Linked DNA regions of Homo sapiens: region 1 is linked to region 2. The links come from fine-mapping of genetic effects on gene expression. A gene starts in region 2. The other region holds a variant in brackets. All regions are shown on one strand. Distances are from middle to middle.

What was found.
Region 1: its variant is fine-mapped to the expression of SNAPC4 in whole blood (TOPMed, PIP above 0.99).

The regions. Positions count from the first base shown.
Region 1 is chr9:136,361,639-136,365,934 of GRCh38, forward strand. It overlaps DNLZ (DNL-type zinc finger), which reads right to left and starts at 2,106. Exons shown (of 3, transcript NM_001080849.3): 1 at 1,849-2,106; 2 at 1,351-1,490; 3 at 1-542. The coding sequence starts at 2,076. The coding sequence ends at 374. CARD9 (caspase recruitment domain family member 9) reads right to left here. Exons shown (of 13, transcript NM_052813.5): 11 at 3,503-3,579; 12 at 2,845-2,921; 13 at 2,318-2,763. The coding sequence ends at 2,664. It overlaps LOC124902309 (a long non-coding RNA gene), which reads left to right and starts at 1,731. Exons shown (of 2, transcript XR_007061863.1): 1 at 1,731-1,814. RefSeq lists silencers at 1,462-1,741, 1,842-2,341, 2,372-2,471 and enhancers at 2,683-3,573, 3,574-4,296. The variant G/A (reference allele first, on the strand shown) is at 1,813.
Region 2 is chr9:136,397,985-136,402,351 of GRCh38, forward strand. It overlaps SNAPC4 (small nuclear RNA activating complex polypeptide 4), which reads right to left and starts at 2,186. Exons shown (of 24, transcript NM_003086.4): 1 at 2,150-2,186; 2 at 315-453. The coding sequence starts at 444. ENTR1 (endosome associated trafficking regulator 1) reads right to left here. Exons shown (of 10, transcript NM_001039707.2): 10 at 3,938-4,367. RefSeq lists enhancers at 1-669, 2,399-3,335 and silencers at 1,844-1,953, 2,024-2,153, 2,224-2,433, 2,584-2,633.

The DNA.
Region 1 (4,296 bases), 36 kb before region 2:
AGAGGAAGGCTGAGGCTCACAGGGGTGGTGACCTGCTCAAAGTCACGCAGCGACAGCCAGGAAGGGCTCTGACGCCACATCCAGCCCCCTTTCCACGCGACTGTGGCCTCTGTGGGCAAGAGCTGGGTGACTCTGTGTAGAAGGAACTGTGGTGAGGCGAGAGGTCCTGCGGCTCCTATGTCCCACCCAGCAGCACCAGGGATTCAGAGCAATCGTTCTAACTCCAGAAAAAGAAAGGCCACGAGGGCCACAGGCCCCAGCATCTGGAAGTAATGTCTGTTTATTGATAGAAAACAGGCCACGTCCAGAGAGGCCCAGGGCCAAAACCTCCTTCTGGAAGGCCGAAGTCCCACAGTGCCGGGGAGCGCAGGAGTCAGCTCGGCTCCGTCTTGCCAGGGCTGGGGGGACCCTCATCCTCACCCGCTTCCGGAGCTGCAGTGGATGTGGGGGCCCCTGCAGCCTCCAGAACCAGTTCCAGGGCCCCCTCGCCCGCCACACGGTGCACCTGCTCGCCTCTGGCCGTCAGGATCTCTTCGATATTTCTGGGGGGCAGGGAGGCAACATGGCTCTTCAGGGCCCCCCAGCCGCCCTGCACTTCAGTCCCCTCAGGGCGCCCCATGGCCAGGCCAGAGCTGCAAGCACCAGGCCCAGCACTCCTGTGGCATCAGGCCACACGGGCACTTCAGACGCTGGCCTGTGTGCCCTCACCAGCCCTGTGTCTCTGCCGGTATGCGCCGCCTCAGGAACCCAGTCTCCTGCTCCTGCCCCCTATGTGCCAGAGGGAAGAATCTGCAGCCCCGGGTCTGATGGGAGGACAGTCCCAGCTCCAAGGGCCAGGTACCACCAAGCACCTGGCATGCTGGTCTCAGACCTGCTGTCGCTGTTACTGTCCTGCCCAGGACCTCCCGGCCAGGCAAGGCCCGGACCAGGCTCCCGGCACCACCTCCACTGCTCTCCCAGCAGCCAGGGCCCAGGCCACACCTCCTGGTCCACACCCCAAGCCTTGCTGTGGGCCAGCCACCCCAAGATGGCAGAGGGCAAAAAAGTTCCACGCTAGAGAGGGACAAGGCTGCCAGTGATGGCAGAGGGCAGGCAGAGGCAGGGAGGCAGGGCCACAGGGCTGGCAAAATTTAACAAATAAAAACGCACCCCCTACTTGGGGCATACTTAAACTCAAAAGCTATCTGGGCTTTATAGGAAATTCTCATTTAACTGTGTGTCTTGTATTGATAAGGTGGCTGGATTTCCCAGGTGAGATCTATAAACCTCAACACTAGGGCAAGGTTCCCCCAGGGAGGCCAGGGTACTTCTGGGTGGCCTTCTGGCCCAGCCCTGGGGTACAGGCCTCACCTCTTCCCATTCAGGTCCGAGAACCAGCCCAGGTTGTCAGCGATGATATGGTGGTTCTGGCAGCCGGGGCAGGTCACAATGACCACGCCTTGGTGATAGGCCAGCTTGGAGATGCGCTTGGAGGACCTAGTCCCGCAGACCTGGCTGGGACAGGGTAGCTGGTGAGGCTGTGAGGGCCGCCACGCCCCTCCCGGGAAGACCCGCCCCTCTAGGGGTAGCTCCAGCCACCTCACCCTCTCCAGAGAAGGCCCCGCCCCCGAGGGATAGCTCCACCCACCCCCAACCTCGCCCTCTCCCGGGAAGGCCCCGCCCCAGGGACGGCTCCACCCCTCCTCATGGTCCGCCTCCGCTCCCTCCCAGAAGCCCCAAGGGGTGGCTCCACTCCTTCCTGTGACTTGACCACGCCGCCTCCCGGATCCCCGGCGGGCCGCTTCTCCCCGCAGGCCGTGTAGCGTCAGATAC[G/A]GGTCTGTCCCCGGTTCCGTCCCGCCGCGCGCCTACCTTGCAGGTGTAGACGAGCTGGTAGTGCGCCGCCTCCACGCGCCCCAGAGCCGCCGCGGGCCCCGGCCCCTGCTCGGAGCTTGAGCGCCGCCAGCCCCAGGCCCAGGCCCGCCGCCTCCCCGCGACCTCTGGACGGGCCCCGCGGCCCCACAGCCGCCTCAGGCAGGGCGCCCGGGGCTGCACGCGACTCAGCAACCTCGGCGCGCCGCGCAGCGCAGTCCGCAGCATCCCGCTCGCCGGCTCCGTCCGCCCTGCCCCGGCCCCGCCCCGCCGCCATCTTGGAAGTGGGCGCCGGGCGGAAGCGGCGTTCTTGGGCTTCCGTCTTCCGGGTCGGGGGCGCGCTGCGCTATGCCGCCCCCTGGCGGCCTGAGGGGGCCCTGCGTCCACGTGCAGCTCGCACCCCGAGGACACCGCGGGCCGCAGCGAGGAGGGACGGCCGCGGGGCTGCGCGCGAGTGTCCGAGCGGGAATGCGGGTCACCCGTGCTGTTTATTTACGCAGCTGTGTTTTCTAACACTAATACAATGCATGCATGTATTGTGTGTTACATGGTGAAACAGAACAGATCCTGAAGTTACACAGATGGCGTGTGCATGGGGGTGGTGAGCACCCGCATGGCCTCCGCAAAATGAGTGCCGCTTAACAAACGGCCCCAATGCCCGGCAGTCCGGCTGGGCCTTTCAGGGCACCAGATTCCTCGTTCCAGGCCAAGTCAGCGACGGCTCGGGGAAGTCTGCGCCCCAGGGCGTCGGCACCCCCGGGTGGCAGGAGGCCGGGCCGGTGGGTGTGCCCTGGTCGGGGCCTGCGCTGCTGCGGCTAGGAGCCCTCAGTGTCGGTGTTGTCGCTGCCCGTGGTGTTCTCCCGGTCCTCCTCCCCCTGCCGCCATCCTTTCTGCATCTTCCTGAGGGCGCGCTTCCTGTGAAGACAGGTGTCTCAGGCGCGACCCGGCTGCCGCTCCCCAGCCCGTTTTGGAGAAGCCTGGGGGCCGCCCGCCTACCTGCGGTAGTTCTCAAAACTCTCTTTGAGGCGCCGCCGCTCCTTCTCGGGCGGCTCCCCGCTGCTCAGGCCTGCGTCCTGGAGAAGGGGGAAGGCTCGGGCTCCGGCCGGCTCCCCTGAGGGAACCCGTCCTTCTCACCCGCCCCCCACTGGCCCCTGTAACTGCAGACTGGTTGGGAGGCGAGGAGCCCAGACAGCCTCAGCTCAGCGCCAAGCTCTCCCTGTGGGACCTGCCTGTACCCCTGGAGGTGAGCCGGTGTGGGTAGCCTGCATTTCAGATGCCAAGACACACCCAGGAGGCCAAGCCACGGCTCCAGCCTGGGGTCCGGGCCATTGTTTCTACAACAAAGCCCGAGGTGGTGCTTGCTCTCAGGACTCCTGTGTTCACCTCCTCATCCACTGTAAAGGCCCTCGGAAAACCAGGACCAGGCACATCCACGTCCAAAAAGCCCCCCAAGCTGCTGCAGTGCCCAAGAAAGGGGGATCCACTTCGCAGCCCAGACACCGCACCCCGAGCACTGTGGGCAGAGACCTTGTGGTCACTCCTCAGCTGTCGTCGGGGCCACCGCAGGGGGTGCCCAGGGCAGGGAGCCACTCTCCCTGTGATCGGTCACCCTGAGGCCCACGGCTGGGAGGACCCCACCCCGGGGAAGCCTTACATGGGGGTTCCGCAAAACCTGCTCCTGGTGCAGAGCTGCAAAGGGCTGTTTCGGGCTCCCCCCGCCGGCAAGGCAGCCTGGAAAGGAGAGTCGTGCCTGTGGGACCTGCCCATCTGCTGGGCCACGTATAGCACGGCTGCCCCACCCCTCCCCGGCATTGCAGTGGGGCTGTCTTCCAAGGCCTGGTGGGATCCCCACATGGGTCCAGTGTAGACTCTGCTTTCTGTAGATGAGACTGAGGCCTTATGGCCTCGCTTGCCTGTTCATTGCTCCAGGAGGCCGCCAGATGCCAGCCCAGGCCCAACGCTCCCGCCAGTGACCATCCCTCCCCCGAGCTGGCTGCCTGCCAGGGAGGAACGCCTCCCAGACCTCGGGGGAACTTAAACCCTGGGCCTGAGCAGCACCGTCCCCCATCACTCCAAAGCATCTGTGGGCATGGCGGCCCTGGGGAGAGAGTTGGGGACAGCTACAGTGGCTGTCTGGGTCCTCCTGAAGTGGGGGCAGGGGTACTGCAGCAATTGGGAGAGAACCTTCAGGCGGCTGGACCCCCTCAGAAACCGCCAGGACCTGGGCAGACCAGGGATCAGGACCCTTGGGCAGAAACCACGCACGTCCAGTCTCAGCCCCACTGCGGTGAGGGCCAGGCCAGGGCTGTCCTGGCCATTGGCAGCCCCTTAGAGCCAGCCCCTCCCCTGCTCACCCTCCAACCTTCACACCTGCCCCTGCTCCTGCCACAGCCACCCAGGGGGATGGGGGCAGTGCCTGAGCCGGACTCCTGGGTCCTGCTCGCCTCT
Region 2 (4,367 bases):
GTCAGAAGCTCTCTGGCTGGAGTACAGAAAGACACCAGTGTTGGCAAAAAATTGGGTCTGGTCCAAGCAGCACCAGCCATCGTTTATTATTATTATTATTATTTTTAGAGACAGGGTCTTGCTGCGTTGTCCAGGCTGGACATGAACTCCTGGGATCAAACAATGCTCTCACCTCAGCCTCAGGAGTCCCTGGGTTTACAGGCCTGAGAAACCACACCCGGCTACCATCACTCCCTAATGTGCCTGAGAGGAACCCAGGAGGCAGACCAGCTGTTCTTACCAGGACCCCAGGAGGCTAGGTACAAGGGGCTTACCTGCTTCAGAATCTGACTCGAGACTTGATTCTGAGATCTCCACGTGGGAGCCCGAGGAGCCGGGATCCAAAATCCTTTCCAGCTCCTTGATCTCCTGTGTTATCTTCTCTCTTTCAGCATCTACATCCATGACTCCCGCCTGCCTCCAAAACACACCCCGAGATGTTAGAAACCAAGACCGTGCCGGGATCCCATTCTCCTTCAGACACACCCGCCCATGGGGGATGGCAGGAGCCTGCTCGGCAGTGGGCACTGGGCTCCCCAGAGAAAGATTAATAGGCCAGGCACAGAATCGGGGAACCCTGGGACAGGAACCTCAGACCCCACAAACTCCTGCTATGTGCTCTGCCAGGAGCCTAAGCCCCAAGAACATCTCCCGCCTGCTCTGAGGCTGCAACCAGCACAGGCAGGGAGTGGATGAACAAGGACAGGCCCCACTGTCCCGTCTCTGCTCCCACACCAAGCCACATGGAAACTGGCCACCCAGCGTAGAAGGTGTGGGGTGCAGTGGCAAAGTCACTACAGGGCAAGGACACAGCCCGTGACCCACTTTGGCCATCCTGCTCTCCCATGACACAGAGCCGGACCACAGAGGGCATTTGAGAAACGTTCACAGAGACACACACTGAGACTGCCCAGGTGGCAGGCACTAACAGCATGGTTGGGAAGGAAGCTCCCAAAGGGAAGGCTGGCTGTTCTCTGTACATCCAGAACAACGCCTGGAACGTGGCAGTGCCTGACACTAACAAATGTTTGTCAAGCTTTTTTCTTAGGAACTGTGGTCCAGGAAGTCTGAAGGGAGAAGGACGCTAGAGAGAGAGTGGGAGAATGAAACATTAGCAGAGAAAATCTAAAGGAATCACTAGCACAGACCCGGGAGCCCAAAACACCCAACAACAAAGAGAAACGCCCTCCCCCGTCCTTGGCGTGGCTCTCCCTGCTGGAGGCTGACTGGGGCCCTGCCCAACTGGAACAAAACCAAAGCATCCACCCGCGAGCACCGTTAGCCGCATCAGCAGCCCAGGTCCCCTCACTCCTTCACAAAGCCCCTTGTTTATGCCCGAAATGCTTGTGAACCTGTAAACTCAGTTAACAGCCGGCCAGAGGCAGAGCTGGCAGCGACCGCAGGCTGGTTCAGCGCCTCCGGGCCGGCGGAGACGCTTTCCTCTGGAAGCCTCACACGAGGCTGCTGCCTCCCCCTCCCCGTGTCGCTCAGGTGAGCAATGATCAGCAGGAAGGAGGTCAAAGTCACACGTGCTGAGCCACTGACATCAGGGGCTGTCCCTCTCCCCGCACCCCTCTCCCAAGGGCTGGTCATGAGGGCTGCCCACCAAGACGGAGCGCAGCAGGCGGTCCCTCCAGCCCCAGCTGCGGGGACGCCACCCAGACTCGGCTGGGCCCAGGGAACCCCAGGATGCGCCAGGACGATGGGCGTTTAGGCACTGGCTTGGGAGACAGACCCGGCCCAGGCCCAGTTCCGCCTCCTGCTCGCTGCGTGAACTGGGGAAACCCCCTCCGAGGCTCGGCCACCGCGGAATCGCCGGCGCAGTCCCCGAGACGCACGCGGGCGCCCTGCAGCCGGGGCCGCCCCGCCGGAGCCTCCTCGGAGCCCGCAGCCCGCTCCCAGCCGAGGGGCTCCCAGGGCCAGAATCCCCGCGCGCCCAGGCTCGGCCGGACGGGGGCCACGCCGGGCCTCAGTTTCCCCGACTTTGGGCGCTGCCCCGCCCCCGTCCCGGGCCTCGGCTATCCGCTCCTCGGGACAGCGCCCCCTCCACGGGGAGAGCCCTGAAGCTGCCGACGCCACCCGCGCCTCACCTGCTGGGCGCACACCTTACCTGGCCGCGCGGACCCCGCCGTCGCCCGGGCGACTGCAGACTCGACGCTTCCGGCGGCTGCAGAACAAGAGCGCCGCGCGCCGGAAGTCCCGCCTCCTGAGGCGCGGGGCACGCCGGGACGGCCGCTGCGGCCTGCCGGGACTAGAGAGGCGAACGGCTCGATGCTGCCCTCGCGCGGCCGCCCTGGGGGCCGCCTCCGCGCGCTCTGGAGGGGCGCGGGTGGACGCGGGACCTCAAGGCAGGGGACAGACAGGGACAGGCACCCGGCCACCTGGTCACGATCCGGAAGACCGGCCCTTACTGGCTGTGACCTTCGGCCATCGCTGGACCTCTCTGTGCTTGTTTCATCCTCTGTTAACGGACATGTTGGGGTTTGGTTAAGCAACGGATGAGAAAGTCTACGTGAAAGGCTTTTTCCCCAGCCTGCCCTGCATGCTCAGGATCGCCGAGGCCAGGCCGATCTCCAGGCACGTGCAGGAGACTGAGGCCAGAGGGTGGGGGCCCGCACCACACAAACTCGCTTCCCTGGTCACCTGTGCACACCCTCTGGGGTCTCCTGGCCTGGAGAGCTGCCCCGGGGCCCTCCCCTAAGTGGGCATTCATTCCTTCAGGAACGTGCCAGGGCTAACTCGGCCGGGAGCTGGGCAGGGGCCTACAGTTCCTGGCTCCTGAGAGCTTCTAAGTATCGGTGCTGCAAAGACATCCTGGGCCCAGCCAGTTGAGGGGGCCTCCACTCCAGCCTGGGGTGAGCTAGGGGCATCAGCTGGAGAACTATAAAGAGGGTTTGCCCTGCCTACCTAGGAGGTGGGCTTTTGGTGGCAAAGGGCTAGGCCCAGGTGAGGCCAAACTGGGAGCTAGGGATTGGCAAGAAACAGATGGAGGGGATGGAACCAGGCGGCTGGGGGCTCCTCGAGCGCCTCGTTTCAGTCCCTGCATCGGGCTTGAAATCTGGAGGCAGAAGGCAGGCACTAAATACCGCGCCACAAATTGTATTTTTAAACTTCTTACTATCAAACGCTTCAAACACAGACATCAAAAGAGAGGGGTGCGCAAAACCCACATGCCCATCCCCACCGCGCTTCCCTGGGCCCCACCTGCTCCATGAGCTGCTGGCATGAGGGCCAGGGGACCACCCCACTTCACACGCATCTGGTGGATGGGACCCGCCTGGCGATCTGGCCTTTGTGACCCCCACCCCATCAAATGCTGTCTCTCCCAAAGGGCCTCAGGGAAGGCCTGTGGCCTGAGGCATCCTCCCCAGATGCCCCCATCCTGCTGCTACAGGGCTCCCAGAGCTGCCTATACACTCAGAACCTCATTCCGGCACTTCCCAACCACAGCACCCTGTCTCAAGTCAGCTCTGCCAACAGAATCCAGAGCCTGCTTTCACCAACCAGCAGGAGCAGGAGGCGCATAGGGCTACGCAGCAGGACCGCTCCACAGTGACTGCTGGAAAGCTCTGGCCTTCACCTGTAGCTAAGGCTAGGGGTCTAGCAATTCAGACGCCTTGTTTGAAAAATTCAACCACATGATCCGAAAAGATGATCCAATGCTAGAATCCAGTCTGTCCAGCTCTGAAACGTGCAGCTGCGTGACTCACACGTCCATCACGTGTGGGTCCCAGTGGTCAGGCCCAGGCAGCAGTGGTCTGAGTCTGCCCCTAACCCCAAGGGCTGAGGACCTGGAGAGAATCTGCCAGCACAAGGCACCAGTTAGGGCAAGAGCAAGTGAGGTGTGGAAGCCCACGGCGTTCTCCAAGGACTGGCTAAGTCAGCAGAGAAGAGACAGTGCGGTGAACTACAGAATTTATTAAATAAGAAAGCTATCAATTGGAACAGGAGGAAAAAAAAGTTTTAAAAAAAATCTATAGGAAAATAGTCAAAAAAGCATTTAGTGCTCATCGCCGTCCCTCTGAGGGGGGCCGTCAGAAAGGCAACTGGGACCTGACAGACCCGGGCACATACTTGAAATTCCTGAATTCTAACCTGCATTGTACAAAATGCCACTTGAAACGTCCACCAGAACCCCCAGCCAAAGAGGCACATCTGGACAGCTTCACAGCACGGAACGTGTGACCTTGGTCCCCGTGGGTCCCGGAGGAGGACAGCAGCAGCCACGCGGTGGCCCCTGCGCACTCAGGCCATGACTGCAGGGACCACCCACTGGGGCCACAAGAGTGACCCGGGAGCCAGAGGGAGCCCTGAGCATCGGCGGAAGG